Linked DNA regions of Homo sapiens. The protein of the gene in region 1 purifies or fractionates together with the protein of each later gene. This does not show direct contact. Each region holds a gene or a part of one and is shown in the gene's direction. Other genes may lie near its edges.

Region 1 (4,155 bases):
GCTGTCACAGCTGGGCAGCCAGCTGCAGGGCCTGAGCGTGTCTGGCAGGGGCAGCTGCTGTGGGCAACTAGCCTTGATCAATGCCCGTATGGATGGCCTTGAGAGGGCCCTGCAGGCAGTCACCGAGACCCAAAGGGGCCCCGGTGCCCCGGCCGGGGATGAGCTTACGAGGCTCTCTGCTGCCATGCTCGAGGGAGGTGTGGACGGGCTGCTTGAGGGTCTGGAGACGCTCAATGGGACAGAGGGTGGAGCAAGGGGATGCTGTCTGAGGTTGGACATGGGGGGGTGGGGAGTGGGCGGCTTTGGGACCATGCTGGAAGAGCGCGTGCAGAGCCTCGAGGAGCGCCTAGCAACATTGGCTGGGGAGCTAAGCCATGACAGCGCCTCTCCGGGCAGGTCAGCTCGGCCCCTTGTACAGACAGAGCTGGCTGTGCTAGAGCAACGGTTGGTCTCACTGGAGACTTCGTGCACCCCGAGCACCACCTCAGCCATCCTGGACAGCCTCGTGGCAGAGGTGAAGGCCTGGCAGAGCCGGAGCGAGGCCCTCCTACGCCAGGTGGCCAGCCACGCAGCACTGCTCCAGCAGCTCAATGGCACTGTGGCCGAGGTCCAGGGACAGCTGGCAGAAGGGACGGGCAGCTCACTTCAAGGCGAGATCACTCTGCTCAAGGTCAATCTGAACTCAGTGAGCAAGTCGCTCACAGGCCTCAGTGACTCTGTCAGCCAGTACTCTGATGCCTTCTTGGCTGCCAACACGTCCCTGGATGAGCGGGAACGCAAGGTGGAAGCCGAAGTCCAGGCCATCCAGGAGCAGGTCAGCAGCCAAGGCTCCAGGCTTCAGGCTGGCCACAGGCAGGTCCTGAACCTGCGTGGGGAGCTGGAGCAACTCAAGGCTGGTGTGGCCAAGGTGGCCAGTGGGCTGAGCCGCTGCCAGGACACAGCCCAGAAACTTCAGCACACAGTGGGACACTTTGACCAGCGGGTGGCACAAGTGGAGGGTGCGTGCAGGAGGCTGGGCCTGCTGGCCGCGGGCCTGGACAGCTTGCCCACTGAGCCACTGAGGCCCAGAGAGGGCCTGTGGAGCCATGTGGACCAGCTGAATCGTACGCTGGCCCAGCACACGCAGGACATTGCCCGCCTCCGGGATGACCTACTGGACTGCCAGGCCCAGCTGGCTGAGCAGGTGCGGCCAGGGCAAGCCAACTAGACAGGCTGGCCAGGACCCAACCCCTAGATCCCACCAACTCGGGGAACATCACCCCAGAGCCCAGCCTTATCCAGCAGCGCCTTCCAGCCTTCCCTGGCTAGCCCAAATGGCACTAAGGAGGCCACTGAGGGAATCCTCCACGTGGCTGTCCCAGCCACCAAAACCCATGCACAGTGCTGCAGAAACTGGACAGTTCCGGACAGCGGTCAAGGCAAGGATGTCATGCTTGAAGGCCAGGGTAGACTTGAGAGAGTTCACATTCCACTGTCAGCAAATCAGTGTCTGGACAGCCAGCTGCAGGGCCTGAGCATGGCTGGCAGGGGCAGCTGCTGTGGCAAACTGGCCTTGATCAGTGTCCGTATGTAAGGCCTTGAGAGGACCCTGCAGGCAGTCAGCACCAGCCTCAGCAACTGTGCAGAGACCTACAGGCCCACAGCCAGTGGCCTGTCCGCATTGCCCTGTGCCCACAAGCAACAGTCCACAGCCCTTGGTGGCTTCTGTTCCTTGTCCCCTCGGCTTCTCTTCGCAGCCATCAGGACTAGGTTTGTGCAGGAAGGTGATGCCCACTGGAACTCTCCTCACACCTGGCAGCTTCATGGATGTTGTATCTGAACTAAGGACCAGAGGCTGCCAGATGTTTCTGGCTCCTCACGTGTCCTTCAGGACAGAACAGAAGCACAAAGACTCAGCCAAGAGTTCTCTTTATTCCCTTTGATCCTCCCCCAAGGTGAGGGCTTAGGCAGCTGTAGAACCCCAGGAAAGAACGGAATCCAGGCAATCTGTTTAGAGACCCCCCACTCCAAATTTATCCTTTTCCTTTCCTTCCCCTAAGATGTTTCCAGGGCCCTCTGGTGCCCACACTGTCCTCTTCCTTCCACTTGGGGGTGGGGAAATCCTTCCTGCGAGGTCAGGGCATTTCTCTACAAAGTGGCCTGAATGAGGCCAGGCCCTGAGAAGGAGCCACCAGCTGGAGGAAAGGGGCTCCAAGCCTTGCTTTTAACACCCCTGCAAAACCCCCACCCTCCCAAGATGTTCACAAAAGGTGAGAAATTCAGGTACGAAACCATCAATGGACAACTTGAAAATGCATGTTCCTCAGGCCTATGCAGTTCCCAGAGACTCTTGACACCGGTCTCTGCTGAGGCTCCCAGCCTCAGTTTCCCCCACAGCAGCACGGGCCCCACTGTGCTGCTCTTCAGGTCCCCACAGCCCTGCCTTTGGTTCCTGGACATTTGGTATTCTGCCCTCCACTCTGGTACTATCAGAGTAGGGCAGGCTCTGGATTAAAGCTTTTAGCCGGTCTAAAGCTACTTTCTTCAAAGACAGTGGGAGGAGAGGTTGCTGGGGCATCAGCCCTGCTTCCCACAGCTCCTTAGGCAAGAGCTTACCCAGCAGCTGTGAGCACCAAGCTGGCCAGCAGAGGCTGGGGGAGGACTTTCAGGCCAACACCTGCCCCAGCTGAGTTTGGGACTGTCCTTAAGCGAGGTCTGGAGAGAGGCAGCGGCAGCAGCCGGACGGGGAGCAGGCCAAGCCGGAACCACAGCCTGCAGGTGTGGGTGTGTGTCATGTGCTGAGATGCCAGGGCACCAGCAAGGGGGATATGTTGGCAGTGATGTCTGGCTTCGGAGGGTACAGTCCTGGCTCCCAGACAAGGGGCGGGGAGAACACTGTGTCCTTCCAGAGGCTGTACCACACTCCCACTGCTGTCACCCTTCACTGAAGCCTCGAGCCTCGGTAGGGCCTCCCTCTTCTCCCTGTCCTATCAAGACTTACAGCAAGGTCCCAGGTTGACAGGGAGACAGATATCAAGGGCATAGAAAACCCTGCAAGGAGGCCTGGCATGGTAGCTCATGCCTGTAATCCCAGCACTTTGGGAGGCCGAGGTGGGCAAATCACTTGAGGTCAGGAGTTCGAGACCAGCCTGGCCAATGTGGTGAAAACCCATCTCTACTAAAAACACGAAAATTAGCCAGGCGTGGTGGTACACGCCTGTAATCCCAGCTACTTGGGAGGCTGAGGCAGGTGAATCGCTTGAACCCGGGAGGCGGAGGTTGCAGTGAGCCGAGAGATCATGCCACTGCACTCCAGCCTGGGCAACAGAACAAGACCCTGTCTCAGGAAAAAAAAAAAAAAAAAAAAAAAAAGAACCCTGCAAGGGCCCAGATGACAAGCTAATTGCCCCAGGACAGTGCCACACTGACGCCTGGAGCAGCTGCAGCTTAGCTGGCAAAAATATGACGGGGAAGATGGGGGAGTCTCTCTAGCTGCCAACCAACCTGCAGCCTCCTCCTTCCCCTTCAGTGGGTTTGCCCCATGACACTCCAATTCCCACCCTCCTATACCCCAGGACACCTAGCCAGTCCTGGGCCGGGCCAGGGAGGAGGAGCCAGCCAGGGCAGGTTCAGTCCAGGGTATCAAGGTCCACAGCAGGCAGTGGCTCCCGCCAGTAGCAGAAGTTACTGTATTCAGGGTTGGCCAGGTCTGTGCTGGGGCCACGGGCCACAGGTGGGAAGAGGAGCTCGACCACTTCACCAAGCCGCTCATACCTACAGGCAGAAGGGGGCCAGCACTGAGCCTGAGCTGCCACCAAACGATGGCCTTGGCCATGGGTCTGTCCCAGAGTAAGGGACAGACTCCCCGGTAAGAGGTAAAATTGGGGCCCAGGGAGAAGCCAGGGCAGGGGGACGTGGTAGGGCATGGGGAACATGGCAGGGTTTAGCCTCACGTGGATTTGTGGTTCTTTATGAGCTCCTGGATGAGCTCTCCCCGGGGGTTGACTGTGAAGATGCGTGACTCAGGCAGGCCCACCTGCCGGTAGGCAAAGACATCCTGTGGGAGACAGGAGGGGCCCATGGAATGGAGGCCTGCAGGCAGCTGGGGAGAGGTGGCTCAGCAGAGTGGAGGGGACACACTCACATTGGGCCTATTCCCAAAGGCAGCATAGAAGG
Region 2 (5,139 bases), on another chromosome or scaffold:
TCATACTGCTTTGTGGGAATAAATCATTTTCTCTGCTTACTTGAAACAGCATCGTCATGTTAATCATATCTTTGGGCTGTAAAGTTCTATCATGAGCCACGATAGTTATTATAATGGAAATACGATTGTGGCTGAAATATTTTTGTCTTCATAACTGTATGCCTAATGTAGTGATCCTCTTCTTAAAATGTGAGAGTCGAGTATGAAGGTACAGGGGTTTTTCGGTTTGTTTTGCACCTAGTCATAGAATTCTGGAGGTGAGATCCCTGGGTGGGTCACGTTTGGGATGATCTTGGATTTGTCCCTGTTGTTCAGTTTGATGGTTTCTGATGTAGTAGGGGACAATTGGCAAGATAGCCAGGCGTCAAAGGGGAGTCTGCTTTGGCTACTGCAGCAACTGCTGCTCCCTTCTGTCATTAGGGTATCACTTCTGAGCTCCTTTCAGAAGGAGAATCATGAACCAGGGGAAGCAGTGGTTGAGTTGGGGCAGGGCTGATAGGTCTCAGGCAGCCCAGAGCAGAAACCTGGTGGATGGCTGGGAGCCACTTGAGTAAGATGTCTGATGGTGGGGGTGGTGGTCATGCCAATGAATGCTGCCCTACATCTGGATTGGTGAGCTGCTTGGTCATCATCACGACTAGTCAGTGGCATGTGAATTGCCCCATCATCTGGTTTTTCAGCCAGGACTAGTTTGTCAGACACAGCCTTCTTAGACTTAAAATACTTCTGCCTTTTATAACTCAGCTTCTTTTTGTTTGTTTTGTTTTGTTTTCTTTCTTTCTTTTTGTATCTTTATTTAGATAGAATTCACTTATTTAAGGTGTACAATTCAATAGTTTTTAGTATATTCACAGTTGTTTAACCACCACCACAACCTAATTTTAGAATATTTTCATCACCCCAAAAGGAAACCTTGTATGTAACCCTTAGCCATAACCCCCACTCCAATCCTAGGCAACTGCTCATCTATTTTTGTTGTTGTTTGTCTATTCTGGACATTTCATATAATCACATAGTATTTGTCCTTTTGAGATTGGCTTCCTTCACTTAGCATAATGTCCTCAAGGTTCATCCATATGGTAATATGTATCAGCACTTATATTCCTTTTTATTTTGCATTGTTCATTGTAACAATTGTCCATTGAATGGATATACAACATTTTGTTTATACAGTGATCAGTTGATGGACATTTGGGTTGTTTCCACTTCTGGCTACTATGAATAATACTGCTATGAACATTTATGTACAAGTTTTTATGTGGATGTATATTTCACTTTGGTAGATAACTACCTGGGAGTGCAATTGCTGGGTCACATGGTAACTGGGTTTTAACATTTTGAGAAACTGGCCCTGCATTGTTTTACATTTCCACCAGCAGTGGGTGAGGGTTCCAGTTTCTCCACATCCCCGCCAACACTCACTGTTCATCTTTTTTGTTGTAGCCATCCTAGTGTTTTTGAAGTGGTCTCTCACTGTAGTCTTGATTTGAATTTCTATAATGACTGTGCTGTTGTGCATCTTTTCTTGTGTTTTTGTTGTTGTTGTTGTTTTGGAGTACTTTCTTTTCTGTGATTCTAGTGTAAAGAGTTCCTCAAACCTTTGTGAGTTTCTGACTGGGTCTCCTCTCCACCCCGCACTTACTGTGACTCCTCTTTCCTCCTCTGCCATCTAAGAAGCCAGCAGTAGAAGGGAGCCCTGGTCGCTGTGAAAGGAATATTTAAAAGAACAGCCGTTGGACACAGCTGTGCTGTGACACCTTCTTGCTAAACACGTGCCCTGTTATCTTTCTTGAGATGCTCGCCTGCCGTTTGGTAAAAGCTGTATGCGTTGTGGTGTATTTGAGTTCACCAACCATTATCAAGATCAATTTGGGCAGAGTAGAGAGACGCTTGGTTGAATGGAGGCCAAGCTGAAATTCTGATTCTTGAGCATGTGATAATCCATGCAAAATGTTAGCCAATTTACATTTCAATTTTTAATCTTATTAGCAAGTATCCTTGCCACCTGATACACTTTTCAGCAGCTGTGAAACTCCAAACTATATTGAATTCAATGAGAATTGCATACATGAAATTTAAAGACTCAGGTTAGAATTATGTGTCCTTTAATAAAAGTTCTTTGCTGAACCATGTTAGCGTGGATTAGCTGTTTTAGATAATGTCCAGTGCCAAGGTCAGCAGATGAGGATATTTAAAATGCTTTGGCAGTTTTCACAGGGAATACCTTTGTCACCAGCACCAAACTGTGAAGGCACTTTGGCTTCATTGAAGTTCATTTGCTTTGGTGCTGACATCATCTGGTTGACTAAGTTCATTACAGTTTTTAAGCATGGCTTAGTATTTGATTTATGGTATAATTGGAAGTAATCAGGTTCACAAATCTGATAAATGCCACAAAACTATTCTAATTTCTTGAAATAAGACCTCACTTAACATTAAAATCTCAGTGTACCACAGGTACCCTTGTACTTGGTTTGCTTTAATTCAAGGATTTACCTTGTAAGTGAATCCAATTGTCATGAAATCTGAAACTCCCTATTCAGAATGAGTCTGTATAGATTTGGGTGAAATCTCACATCAGGAGGATTTTTGAGGTGACGTGGCTTCAGGTTGGTTAATTCAGAGGCCTACGATGGGCCCAGTTTTTTCCATCTTTCTAACTACCATCCTCAGCATTTCCTGGCCTGTTTCTCCCCTGTGGTCTAGATGTCTCCCCCAGGACTGGACACTCCATGCGGATACTGTCACCACTAGGGGACAAAAAAGCCATTTCTTCCTCATGCGCCTCTTCAAAAGCCAGGGATTTTTCACAGATGCACTCAGGAGACTTACACATCTGATGAGCCAGAAATGGGTCACTCACCCCTAAATACATGACTTGCAAGGGGATAGGGACACCTGTGTGCCTTAGATCCATCAGGTTGACCAAGTCTTACGTGGTAGGTAGGTACCAGAGCAAAAACTGGACCCTGCCAGCGTGAAAAAGGAGGAAATTGTTTGTTGGGTAGGCATCCGGCAGTGTCTCAGCAACCAGTAATTGGTGACTGCTAAACCTCAAAGTCTACTATGCCTGTTATTTCTATTTATTTTAGGCTCCTGACTCTTTTCATTAAGAAACACAGCATCCATATATAAAATGCACAGAGTGAACATTCACAATATAGTCAGACTTTTGGTTGGCATTTTGGTTCATAACTGAAGTTTATACCACATAAATCTTTATAAGATGCCATTTCTGAACAGTCTGCCCATTTCATAAAGAGATAATGCAGGATGATGTTTAGTGTAAAAACTAGAAGAGGAGCAGACCTCCTAGACCAATGATTGAGCAATACAGAAATAGAAAAAGGCTTGAAAGACATTAGAAAGAAAGTCAAGCCTGAGGTTAGGGATGACACCACGTGTACAGGCAGAGACAGAGGCCCTGTGCCCAGCAATGCTCAAGGTCTCTAGATGACCGGGAGACGTGTGTTGAAGATAGTACAGAAAATGAATTTGAGTGGGCACCCCATTTCAGAAAGACACTTCAGTCTCATGATATTCAGCTGAAGAAAGTTGAGAGGGTCTTGGGATCAGTTTGCTTTGGCAGAACAGGCATGTGTGTGGGGAGAACTTATCAAGATTCCAGAGACTGGGTGAGCCTTGGACTGCCCTGGGTGTTCACTGACCACCAGTCTGGCCTCACAGGATTTGCAGAGTACCCTCCTGCATGTCCCCTAGTAAGTTTATCTATTTGTGACAGGCTGTGTATCCTTTCTTTTCAGCACGTGGACACGGGGAACTCTTACCTTTGTGGGTACTTGAAGATTAAAGGCCTTACTGAGGTAAGCACTTGCTCACACAAACCAGCACTAGAAAGTCTGTGGTGTGCTCCACAGGCTCATTGGGGTTCAGGGCAGGCGGTCTCAACTCCTTGAGGCCTAATTAAAGCAGACTACTCCTGAGCATTGCTACTGTATAGGGAACATAAAACAGGCAGTTTCAGTGTGTCCTGTTGAGAAGTGTACAGATTCACAAATGTTTTAAAGAAAAGTTTATAAGTACATCATAATTGTCACAACCAACACTATTGATTTTATTTTTAATCCTTTTTGGGGGAAAAAATAATAAGAATATAGCTGCCACCCTCATCATAAGTTTAACAGTTTCTGAGATAAGCATCAGTCCTATAAAAAATGAGCTTTTAAGTTCTTTAAGCCTCTTAGTTAATTGGAACAATGAAAAGTTACTGACTGGTCGCGGTGGCTCATGCCTGTAATCGCAACACTTTGGGAGCCTGAGGTGTGCAGATCACTTGAGGTAGGGAGACCAGCCTGGCCAACATGGTGAAACCCCATCTCTACTAAACATAAAAAAAAAAAATTAGCCGGGCATGGTGGCACAGACCTGTAGTTCCAGGTACTTGGGAGTCTGAGGCACAGAGAATCACTTGAACCAGAGAGGCAGAGGTTGCAGTGAGCCAAGATCACCATGCACTCCAACCTGGGCAACAGAGCAAGACCCTGTCTCAAAAAAAAAAAAAAAGAAAGAAAAAAAAGGGGAAGTGACCATCTAGTTTCCAGCAGAAGTACCTGCTGTGCAGAGTATTTTATTTTCTTTGAACCAAGTTTTTAAACCTCAGAACTCCTGGGACTTTAGAAAGCAAGGAGGAGCATCCTTTCTTTTCCATTAGCAAGGAAACAGGAAGTGGAAGGAGGTAGCTGGACTGGCCCTCCGAATGCTGGGAATGCCCAGGCTGGACCTAGCTGCAGGGGGCCTCTGGCCTTTGTCAGCTCTCATGGTCTGATGATCCAGCAGTATTTGGACAGAGTGCTGTGCTGGATGGGGCAGTGGAAAGGAGCTGGGGTGGCATTCTTCTTCTGCCCCTTCCTGCATCTGTGACCTTTAACTTCTTTCAGTGTCCTCATCTGCGAAGTTGAGAATTAAAAATTCCTGCTCCAGGCTGGGTGCTGTGGCTCACACCTGTAATCCCAACATTTTGGGAGGTCAAAGCAGGAGGATCACTTGGGGCCAGGAATTCAAGACCAGCCTGGACAGCATAGCAAGACCTTGTCGCTACAAATAATTTTTAATAAATTAGCCAGGCATGGTGTTGTGTGCCTGTAGTCCTAGCTACTCAGAAGACTGAGGCTGGAGTAT

What was found. Proteins that work in one complex are often made in the same cells at the same time.
Region 2: the proteins of EMILIN3 (region 1) and GID4 purify together in Homo sapiens (co-immunoprecipitation; 2 studies listed by BioGRID and IntAct, with this or other methods). This does not show direct contact.

What each region holds. Positions count from the first base shown.
Region 1 is NC_000020.11:41,358,320-41,362,474, reverse strand, and holds the end of EMILIN3 (EMILIN-3 precursor), read left to right. Parts: coding exon 1-1,207; 3' UTR 1,208-2,513; downstream 2,514-4,155. Other genes in the region: phosphatidate phosphatase LPIN3, read right to left, coding at 3,609-3,753, 3,933-4,036, 4,124-4,155.
Region 2 is NC_000017.11:18,041,383-18,046,521, forward strand, and holds part of GID4 (glucose-induced degradation protein 4 homolog), read left to right. Parts: intron 1-3,764; coding exon 3,765-3,824; intron 3,825-5,139.